Regions from separate parts of the Homo sapiens genome. Here region 2 is linked to region 1. Evidence: fine-mapped expression QTL. A gene starts in region 1. The other region holds a variant in brackets. All regions are shown on one strand. Distances are from middle to middle. Region 1 holds the start of FBP2 (fructose-bisphosphatase 2). Region 2 overlaps FBP1 (fructose-bisphosphatase 1).

Region 1 (5,379 bases):
GAGCGAAAGAACAAAGCCTCCACAGTGTGGAAAGAGACCCAAACGGGTTGCCGATGCTGGTTTAGGCAGCCTGCTTTTATTCTCTTATCTGGCCCACCCACATCCTGCTGATTGGTAGAGCCGAGTGGCCTGTTTTGTCAGGGCGCTGATTGGTGCGTTTACAATCCCTGAGCTACATACAAAGGTTCTCCACGTCCCCATCAGATTAGTTAGATACAGAGTTTCCACACACAGGTTCTCCAAGGCCCCACCAGAGCAGCTAGATACAGAGTGTCGATTGGTGCACTCACAAACCTTGAGCTAAACACAGGGTGCTGATTGGTGTATTTACAATCCCTGAGCTAGATATAAAGACTCTCCACGTCCCCACCAGACTCAGGAGCCCAGCTGGCTTCACCTAGTGGATCCCGCACCGGGGCTGCAGGTGGAGCTGCCTGCCAGTCCTGCGCCGTGCGCGCGCATTCCTCAGCCCTTGGGTGGTCGATGGGACTGAGCGCTGTGGAGCGGGGGGTGGCGCTCGTCGGGGAGGCTCGGGCCGCACAGGAGCCCATGGAGTGGATGGGAGGCTCAGGCATGGCGGGCTGCAGGTCCCGAGCCCTGCCCCGCGGGAAGGCACCTAAGGCCCAGCGAGAAATCGAGCGCAGCGCCAGTGGGCCAGCACTGCTGGGGGACTCAGTACACCCTCCGCAGCCACTGGCCCGGGTGCTAAGTCCCCCATTGCCGGGGGCCAGCAGGGCTGGCTGGCTGCTCGGAGTGCGGGCCCGCCAAGCCCACGCCCACCCGGAACTCCAGCTGGCCCGCAAGCGCCGCACGCAGCCCCAGTTCCCGCTCGCACCTCTCCCTCCACACCTCCCTGAAAGCTGAGGGAGTGGGCTCCAGCCTTGGCCAGCCCAGAAAGTGGCTCCCACAGTGCAGTGGGGGGCTGAAAGGCTCCTCAAATGCCGCCAGTGGTCATTGACGGCTCAGGCACAGGCAAATCTGGTCTGGGCTTGGAACCGCGGTAGTGACAGGCACTGTGCGTGTCTTACGGGGCCGGCACAGTTGAAATCGTCATCACATGCGCTCGCTAACTCTGCAACAACCCTAAGAGTTAGGGATGCTACTATACTCTCCATTTCACAAAGGGAATCTAAGGTCCTAGCAAGAGTAAATCACGCCCATTATCACACGGTAGGAAATGCCAAATTAATAAGCACCTCAATTATCCAGTTCCTAGGGCCACTTTGTCTCCTTGCTCAACCGCCATAAAGTCAGAGTTTTGCAGCAGATAAGCAAGACCCCTACCATGGCAGCCACTGCCTAGCCAAGAGCCCTGCACAGAGGGGGAGCCCAATTTATGTGGATGAATCACCCTGAGATGGACTCAGGCAACCGCATTGAGGATAGCAGGGTCCGCACAGGGAGAGGCAAAGTCCCTGTCTACCGTCACTCAGCAGGGCTGTCACCCACAGGAGCAGAACAGGGCACCGCCTGCCCTCACATTCTGGAAGGCGATTAAATGCAGAGCGTGGCTGTTATTGCCAAATGAGGTAAAAACAGAGCTGAAGCATCCACCCACAGGAAAAAAGCAAGGATAATGCACCGTTAACCTGGGTCCTGCTACTGGGTCACCACCCCTAAATAAATACAGTCTGTGGTGATCAAATGATAATTACATCTTGTAATCTAATGCTATCACTTTTTGTGTTAAAAGCACTTAATTGCTCAGAGTAAATATTTTAAATGATTGGACTTTGTTAGCTCCTCATTTTGAGTCTCTTTCATCCCCAAAATATGTGTTCCTTCAGCTCCTGAGAGGACCTCCCCTGGAATTACTACAAGGGAAGCCCAAAGAAAGCTGGGGTTTTGTTTGTTTGTTTGTATGTTTTGAGATGGAATCTCGTCCTGTCACCCAGGCTGGAGTGCAGTGGTACGATCTCGACTCACCGCAACCTCCATCTCCCAGGTTCAAGCGATTCTCCTGCCTCAGCCTCCCGAGTAGCCGGGACTACAGGCGCCCGCCACCACACCCAACTAATTTTTGTATTTTTAGTAGAGACAGGGTTTCAACATGTTGGCCAGGATGGTCTTGATCTCTTGACCTCATGATCCACCCACCTTGGCCTCCCAAAGTGCCAGGATTACAGACAGGAGCCACCGTGCCTGGCCACCGGATTCTTTTTATTACAGACTTAAACTGGACACTGGGCTGTGACCATCAGCAGTGTAATGTGAACCTGGCCTCATCTATGCTCGGATAAAGCACCAAAGAGAACCCTGTGGAAGAAACCTCTGCGCTCCCCTCCCAGGACTAGCACCTCCCGGCTTCCTGCACACCAAGTGGAGGTGAAGATAAAGAAAGAGTCACAGAGAAGAAATAAAACACGTAGCCAGCAAAACACTCCTTTAGATGATGAGAGAGCAGATGCAGGAAGGGGCTCTACCAAGCTTCCTATGTCGTACATAATTTCCAGCTCCTAACATATTTGCAAAGCTTATTACAATAAAACACTCATGTCTGCAAGAGGCATAAAGAGATATTTCACGTCACCCCTCTACTTCTTTGTTCCAGTGAGACTCTCTCTGTGCAAGTACAAGTCATGATAACACAATACATATTTTAATGCAACAAGCCACTGCACTTGGTATCATTATAATAACTGGAAAAATTATATGTGTATTTCTTCATAGCATGTTTTCGTTCCTTTCTCAAAACAAGTCAAAGGCCCCTTTATCAAAGCACACATGATAGGAACTTGAAATGCAGCTTCCATCTAGGGCACACAGGGCCAATAAGCTTTGGACCCAGTTTCTTGCCAAAGCACCTGCAGCTCCCACACCCCTGCCTGGGCCTGGGGTGCTCTGTGCCCCATGCCTGCTCCCCAGGACTCACAGGTGGGCCAGACCGGCCTTGCGCACAGCCGAGGAGATGGCTTTGATGGCCGTCAGCATTGAGTTCAGCAGCTGGGTGAGCTCCCCAGTCCCTTTGGCCTGACGCCCCTTTTCCATAACGTAGCGGGTCAGGGTGAGCATGTCGGTTTCGAAGGGGCTTCTGTCCGTCATTTTGGCTGGAATGCTTCAAATCCTTTTCTCCCGGCAGGAAACCTTGCTTACTTCTGAGGGCTGCAGCTCCGCAGTGTGGAAGCCGATAAGAAATCTGTGCTGGCCCTGCCAGGATCTCTAAGGAAAAGGGCCCAAAACACATGACTCAAACAACTGCTGGGGCCCTCAAGGAACTCCCTCTGGCCTCGGGGACTGTGGCAGCTGCCAGGGAGCCGCAGCAGTCTGTAAATAGGACGGGCTGCCCAGAAACATGGAGCTGCTTTCTCCTGCTGAGCACCCCCTTTCAAGATACCAAGAAGCCACCATTTAGGCACAGGTGGGAGGTGAGAAATCCAGTTGATTAAAAAATGATGCATAAAACCCTCTTATTCCAGGCTCCAAAGGATTCTTCACATATAGTGACTGCAGGGCCTGGCTCTCCCGAGGGCGGAGGTGGCAGATTCGCAGGTTCCTTATCTGGGACGTAGGTCACATAGTAACATAATGGCAACCCCAGAATTCCTTTAGCCAGGGTTTGGAATAAGTTAGGAAAGAATGCTTTTTATTTCCAGTAGGCATGTATGACCAGTGGATATCCACAGTAGAGATCCAGATCCGGAAGAAAACTATTATATTCCTAGCACAGTTCCTGGCACCAGTGTTATTTTGTCAATATCTCTGGATGTCCACTTTTGTAACAAAAATTGCTTGTTAAAAAGGAAACACTAAAGAAGTGGATAAAGACAAACCTCCTCACCACCAGCCCATTCTCCCATCCCACTCTCCAGAAATCACTGCTGCTAGGGCTGGTGGCGGTCTGTGCAGCCAGTAGGCACTGGTGGGGTGCATATGGTGGTGGAAGCACTTTCTCTAGGGCCAGCCAGACCTGGCTGTGAGTCCCAAGCTAGCTATCTGTTGGTTGCATGATTTGAGAAAGTTATTAAACCCCTTGGAACCTCAGTTGTCTCACTCTTAAATGAGCATAACCGTGAAGCATCCATCTTATAGAGTGGCTGCAATGAGATGTACCTAGTATAGTAGGTGCTCAGTACTTTGTTACCTATTATTGCCCTTCCAGTTTTTTTTTTTTTTTTTTTTTTTTTTTTTGAGATGGAGTCTCACTCTGTCGCCCAGGCTGGAGTGCAGTGGCGTGATCTCGGCTCACTGCAAGCTCCGCCTTCCAGGTTCACGCTATTCTCCTGCCTCAGCCTCCCGAGTAGCTGGGACTACAGGCGCCTGCCACGACGCTTGGCTAATTTTTTGTATTTTTAGTAGAGACGGGGTTTCACCGTGTTAGCCAGGATGGTCTCGATTTCCTGACCTCGTGATCCGCCCGCCTCGGCCTCCCAAAGTGCTGGGATTACAGGCGTGAGCCATCACGCCCAGCCGCCCTTCCAGTCTTTCAATGTGCTCACAACTATTGTGCAATCATACATAATCTCATTTCACAAAACAGTACAACATGCACATTTCTCTGAAGGTCTTTTCCCCTGACAGTTATGTCGATTAGAATGTGTTCAGCTGCAAGAAATAGAACAACTAGAGCAATTTACACGTGGGGGTTTATTTCCTCATAGACCAGGAGTGCACTAGGAGGTGGTGGCTGGTGTTCATTCAGCTGTTCTTGGTTCCACTGGGACCCCTCTCTGTCTCGTCTCTGTCATCCTTGGTCGGCTGGATTGTGCCCCTTGCTTGGCATCCTGGGGGCACAAAATGTCACTGCAGTTCTGAACATCTGGCCCACGTTGAAGATGCAAAGAGGGGAGCAAGGGCAGCTCCAACCACATCAGTTCCTTTTTATTAAGAAAGAACAGTTTCCCTGGAACCCATCCTCCCACCCCCGTAGACGTCCCTGTGCACAGCGTCTGCCAGATCAGGGTCGTGTGGTGATGCCTGCAGTGGGAGCTGGGCGCTGGCATTGGATCAACCAAACTGGTTGAGGAGGGCAACCAAATGGTTGAGATGGGCATTGGTGCTCACAATTTATGTGGAAACTTTCAGATAAAACTAACATCTACCAGTAGATCTTAATATGCAGGTTTAAGATCCCAAATATATATATATGTTATTTATATATGTTTTTAGTTCCAGAAAGCAAATATTATGGGAAGATGTCCAAGTCAGCACACAGAGGCTTGGATCATTCCAGCTTGCGGACATTCAGATAATTTAGGTAAGTTGGCTCCTCAAATAGTAATGCAACAAACATCCTTATATTGGGGCAAGTGCTTCAGTAAGATACAACCCCAGAAGAGGAACTGCTATGTGACAATGTTCTAATTCTTTTCGCGGGGGTGTGGGGGGGTCTATCTTCACTTACCAAGAAATATGCTACCTCTTAATAGAACAAATACAGGA
Region 2 (5,379 bases), 26 kb after region 1:
CTTGTGATCCACCCACCTCGGCCTCCCAAAGTGCTGGGATTACAGGCGTGAGCCACCGCATCCGGCCTAAAATATATACTTTGAAAAAATAAAACAAAACAAGAGCTAAAGCTAAGAGGATGTACCTTGGATTTTATCATGTTTCCTGATGGGTGGATGGGTTTTCATTCTATTTTTCACTTATTCGTATAATTGAGCACCTCTCCCTCTCCCTCTCCTCCCTCTCCTCCTCCTCCTCCCTCTCCTCTCTCTCCTCTCTCTCTCTCTCTTTCTCTCTCTCTCTCTCTCTCAGAAAAAGCAGCTCTGGAGGAGGGGTGACTGCCCGAGTCAGGTGTTAGGAGACCCGAGCAGGGCTGGATTCTCATCCTATGCTGTGTGCTTTCTACGACTTAGAGCAAAGCTCAGTAAACTGTTTCTACAGACAGACAGATAGTAAATTTTTCAGTTTTATGGGCCATACAGTCTCTATCATAACTACAAAACTTTGACAGTGCAGCAGAGAATCAGCCAAAGGCAGTATGTGAAAAAATGAATGTGACCAAATGCCAATTAAAGCTTCATTCGTGAAGAGTAAAACTTAAAATGGATCACGAAACTTTGTTCTTTAGTTTTTTTCAACTATTTAAAAATGTAAAAATGGTTATTCTTTGTTCACAGGCTGTACACATTAGGCCACAGGCTGGACTCAGCCCGGGGCTCATAGCTTATAGACCATTGACTAGGGGACTTAAAGGACAGTTTTGACATAGTCTCTATTGTTGTCTTACACTCTCAACTCTGAGTTCACATCGTATCATCACTATACTTACCCTCTACTGCCTCTTTTTTAAATCTCATTTTCTATCATAAAAAGTAAGACATAGTAAAAAGAGTGAAATATCCTTCTCTTCCCACCCATATTTTACCCTATATTCTCTTTCAACAATCTAGTGGGTCTTCGTCATGCAATTAGTGCTGAAAAGCTCAGAACTTGAGATACAAATCTACTTCAGTCTCACAGTTTCATGATCTCCACTCCGGCTGCTCTGCCACAGTGAAATAGGACTGGATGCTCAATCTTAACTTCTGTCCCCAAACCAAGTGCTTAAGATATCACGTTTTACCTTTCTATAGATGCCAAAAATGGTTCCAACGGACACAAGGCAATCGATGTTGGAAGATCCATCAAGGGGATCAAAACAGACCACATATTTACCCTGAGCACAGAAAAAAGAAATACAACCTTAAAATGTTATAGCAAGATACACTAAAGGAGTATACATTAGGGGCTAAGAATGGGAATTTAGAAGAAAGTTCAAAAAATGTGGGTCTTATTTATTTGTACTGTCATGGAAGGCATGAGATGGCATACAGAATGCACAGATACACACACATACACACAAGACCATTAAACAGAGAAAATACCACTTAAGAGGTGCAGATGAAGGTAATGGAATACAGATAAGTCATGATTTCCTATATTGTTGATATAATCAAATCATAATTTTGCATTGAGTTTCCTGGCAGCCAAAGGAAAAAGAAGGTTAGTCACTCATTTTCCTTTATTTGTAAGGAAAAAAATAATTCCTTAGGTGAAGCAGAGACTTTGCTAGGGTTGAGATCTATAAGAAACTTCTCATGGAGGTCTTACAGATGCCCCTTGAGGTTGGGGTGCATAGAGTTTTCAAAAATATCCTGGCTGGGCACGGTGGCTCATGCCTAATCCTAGCACTTTGGGAGGCTAAGACAGGAGGATTGCTTGAGCCCAGGAGTTTGAGACCAGCCTGGGCAGCATAGAGAGACTCCTTCTGTAAAAAAAAAAAAAAAAAAAAAAAAAAAAAAAAAAATTCAATTAGCTGGGCATGATGCTGCACATCTGTAGTCCCAGCTACTCAGGAGGCTGAGACAGGAGGTATCACTTGAGCCAGGAGTTCGAGGCTGCAGTGAGCCATGACTGTGCACTCCAGTCTGGGTGACAGAATGAGGCCCTGTCTCTAAAAACAAAACTAAACAAAACAAATTTCTAGCGTAATTCCCAAAGTAGATAACTTTCAGTGGTAGTGGGAATACCGCAGATTCCTGTTTTGAGTGGGATTTTCAGTGGTGTGCAGGAGCTGGCTGGTATCGGCTCTCAGGAGCTAACGGTGCACATCTCTTCCCAACTCTGCCTTCAGTGATATCACATTGGTAGCTTAAAATCAACGATGGGAGAGTATTCACACCATTGACAGAGGCAAGTGGACATATCAGAGACTTGTTTGTTTGCTTTGAGACCCAGTTTACCAGCACATCACTGGGAGTTTTCCATCTCCAAATTAGCCACTTTACAATGTCGTTTTTAAATGTCTGTAGCAGATTAACATGATTCCCTGCCCTCTTGCTCTTCACAGACCACCCTCACTAATGCAGGAGGAACTGGAAACTGGAACACAGGAAGCTGCCTATCATGAAGGCCCATGATAGACAAGAGAAGTCCGGCGTGAGTGATGGAGAATATTAAACAACAAATCTAAGCCATACGCCTAAAGCTGCCAAAGACCTTGAAAGGCCCAGCTGAGAAAAACATGAACTTCAAGTCTGGCATGTACGGCTATTTTAGGAATGATGAAAAACAACTTCATCAGATGTGGCTCCTGCCCTCTTAATAGGGTGAGGACAGGCAGCCTCTTCATCTTCTCATTGTTTTTTCCTAATTCTACTCCTTCATGTTCCCAGTTCCTCTCAAACTGGGAAAGATAGTAAGCCCATATAACTGCACTTCTAATCTCAGAAGTTTTTTTTTCTAATTACAATTGTTGTTTTATAAAAGCTGGGAATACTCTTTCATTTAACAATCTTTTTCAACAGTCATTTGTTGTTGAGGCCCTCCAATGTGCCAGGCATTGCACTAGACACTGGGACACAGAGACAAATAAGATTCATTTTCTGCTCTCAAAAAGCAGAGATAACGCCAGGTGTGGTGGCTCACACCTGTAATCCCAGCACTTTGGGAGGCCAAGGTGGGCGGGTCACTTGAGGTCAGGAGTTCAAGGCCAGCCTGGCCAACATGGTGAAACCTCATCTCCACTAAAAATACAAAAATTAGCCAGGTGTGGTGGCGGGAACCTGTAATCC[C/T]AGCTACTCAGGAGGCTGAGGCAGGAGAATCGCTTGAACCCAGGAGGCGGAGGTTGCAGTGAGCCAAGATCACACCACTGTACACCAGACTGGGCAACAAGAGCAAAACACTGTCTCAAAAAAAAAAAAAAAAAAAAAAAAAAAAGAAGCAGAGACAGACCAATAGGGACTCCAATGCGTGCATCAGGGATGGAAGTTTCAAGCAGTCTAGGTCAACAGGAGGGTCAGTGTGAAGGTCAGGAATTTGGTGGATAGGGATGTAGTACAAGAGGTGACCAACAGAAGCCAGGGTTTGAAGAGCCTTAAACATGGCAATAAAAAGTTAGAAATGGAGATGAGTTTGTGGGAGTCCACTGGGGAGAAGGCGGCGTGAGCCACAACACTCATCTGCACAGTGGCTCAGGGAGGATTCGAGAGATGGCAGCAGTGAGGTGGAAGCTATGAAAAGACCACAGCAGGGATCTAGAGGGACTCCCAGAAACCCAGCTCAGCTGAACAAGTGGAGTCAATTATGAAGCTGGGAAGAAGACCGGCTACATTAAAACCCTCAATGGTGGAAGTACAGACCCACCCTTTTCTCCGGTTCCACTATGATGGCGTGTTTATCTTCTTCTGACACGAGAACACACGTGGCAAAGGATGACTTTAACATGTTCATAACCAGGTCGTTGGAGAGGACGTCCAGCTTCTTAACTTGATCACCTGTCACGTTGGTAGAACCAGCAATGCCATAGCTACAGGGAACAAAAGCCACAAAAAATAAGCCATGACCACCAGAACATGTAGATGAGTCCATAAACCCACCAAAAGTGAGTGTTCGGTAAGATTTAGAAGAAAGAGTTCATGTCCTTTGCAGGGACATGGATGAAGCTGGAATCCATCATTCTCAGCAAACTAATACAGGAACAGAAAACCAAACACCACATGTTCTCACTCATAAATGGGAGTTGAACAATGAGAACACATAGACACAGGGAGGGGAACATCACACACTGGGGCCTCTCAGGGAGCTGGGGACTAGGGGAGGGAGAGCATTAGGAGAAATACCTAATGTAGATGACAGATTGATGGGTGCAGCAAACCACCATGGCATGTTTATACCTATGTAACAAACCTACGCATTCTGCATGTGTATCCCAGAACTTAAAGTATAATAATAATTTTTTTAAAAAAGGGCCGGGCGTGGTGGCTCACGCCTGTAATCCCAGCACTTTGGGAGGCTGAGGCGGGTGGATCATGAGGTCAGGGGATCGAGACCATCCTGGCTAACATGGTGAAACCCCGTCTCTATTAAAAAATACAAAAAAGTAGCCGGGTGTGGTGGTGGGTGCCTGTAGTCCCAGCTACTTGGGAGGCTGAGGCAGGAGAATGGCGTGAACCCAGGAGGCGGAGCTTGCAGTGAGCCGAGATCGTGCCACTGCATGCCAGCCTGGGCGACAGAGCGAGACTCCGTCTCAAAAAAAAAAAAAAAAAAAAAAAATACAAAAAATTAGCCGGGTGTGGTGGCGGGCGCCTGTAGTCCCAGCTATTCAGGATGCTGAGGCAGGAGAATGGCGTGAACCCGGGAGGTGGAGCTTGCAGTGAGCCGAGATCGCACCACTGCACTCCAGCCTGGGCGACAGAGCAAGATTCCGTCTAAAAATATATATATTTTTAGAAGAAAGGAAGGAGGACATCAGCTTGGGAGAACAAGGCAGGAAGGTCTGGACAGACCCTAGAGAGGAGGAGATACTATCATCTGCCTCTTCACCTCGAACCTGTCATGGTGCCCTGCACACTTTTGTGGTTAAATCAGTGTTTCTTAACTTTGTTTTCATTATGATTCCCCTAGGGAGCTTTTTAGAACATTTTTTCCTCAACCATACTCCCCCATGAAATATTTTTAATACTACAGATATAGTAGATATCTGTTTATTGCAGTATGTGTCTCAGTGCTTTTTACATAAAAAGTTTGCGGGTGTTTTTGGTTTTGCCCAGAAAGAACCAGTGTTGGCCCCCAAACACACGGGTTAAACGAATCAATAGAGAGACCCAGCAAGCAAGGAAGCCTGGGTCGGGGGTAGCCTGAGTTGCGAGCCAAGCCAAGGGGTTTATGGCTTTATAACTAAAAAGACCCTAAAAGAAACAAAGCATCAACCGGCCCCTCTGCCTCATTTCATAGAGGAGAAAACTCAGACCCAAGACTCCTGTGGACTTCTCCACACAGGCAGAGGGTAGAAGTGAGACGCTGCCTATGACTCCCAGGCAGAGGGTGGAGGCGAGACCCTGCCTATGACTCCCAGGCCA

Evidence for each region.
Region 2: its variant is fine-mapped to the expression of FBP2 in lung (GTEx, PIP 0.94).

Annotation. Positions count from the first base shown.
Region 1 is chr9:94,590,685-94,596,063 of GRCh38, forward strand. It overlaps FBP2 (fructose-bisphosphatase 2), which reads right to left and starts at 3,140. Exons shown (of 7, transcript NM_003837.4): 1 at 2,873-3,140. The coding sequence starts at 3,042. RefSeq lists an enhancer at 607-1,149.
Region 2 is chr9:94,616,665-94,622,043 of GRCh38, forward strand. It overlaps FBP1 (fructose-bisphosphatase 1), which reads right to left. Exons shown (of 7, transcript NM_000507.4): 2 at 3,665-3,827; 3 at 1,104-1,196. Among named protein-coding and RNA genes, the nearest start is that of FBP1, 20 kb to the right of the region's middle. The variant C/T (reference allele first, on the strand shown) is at 3,094.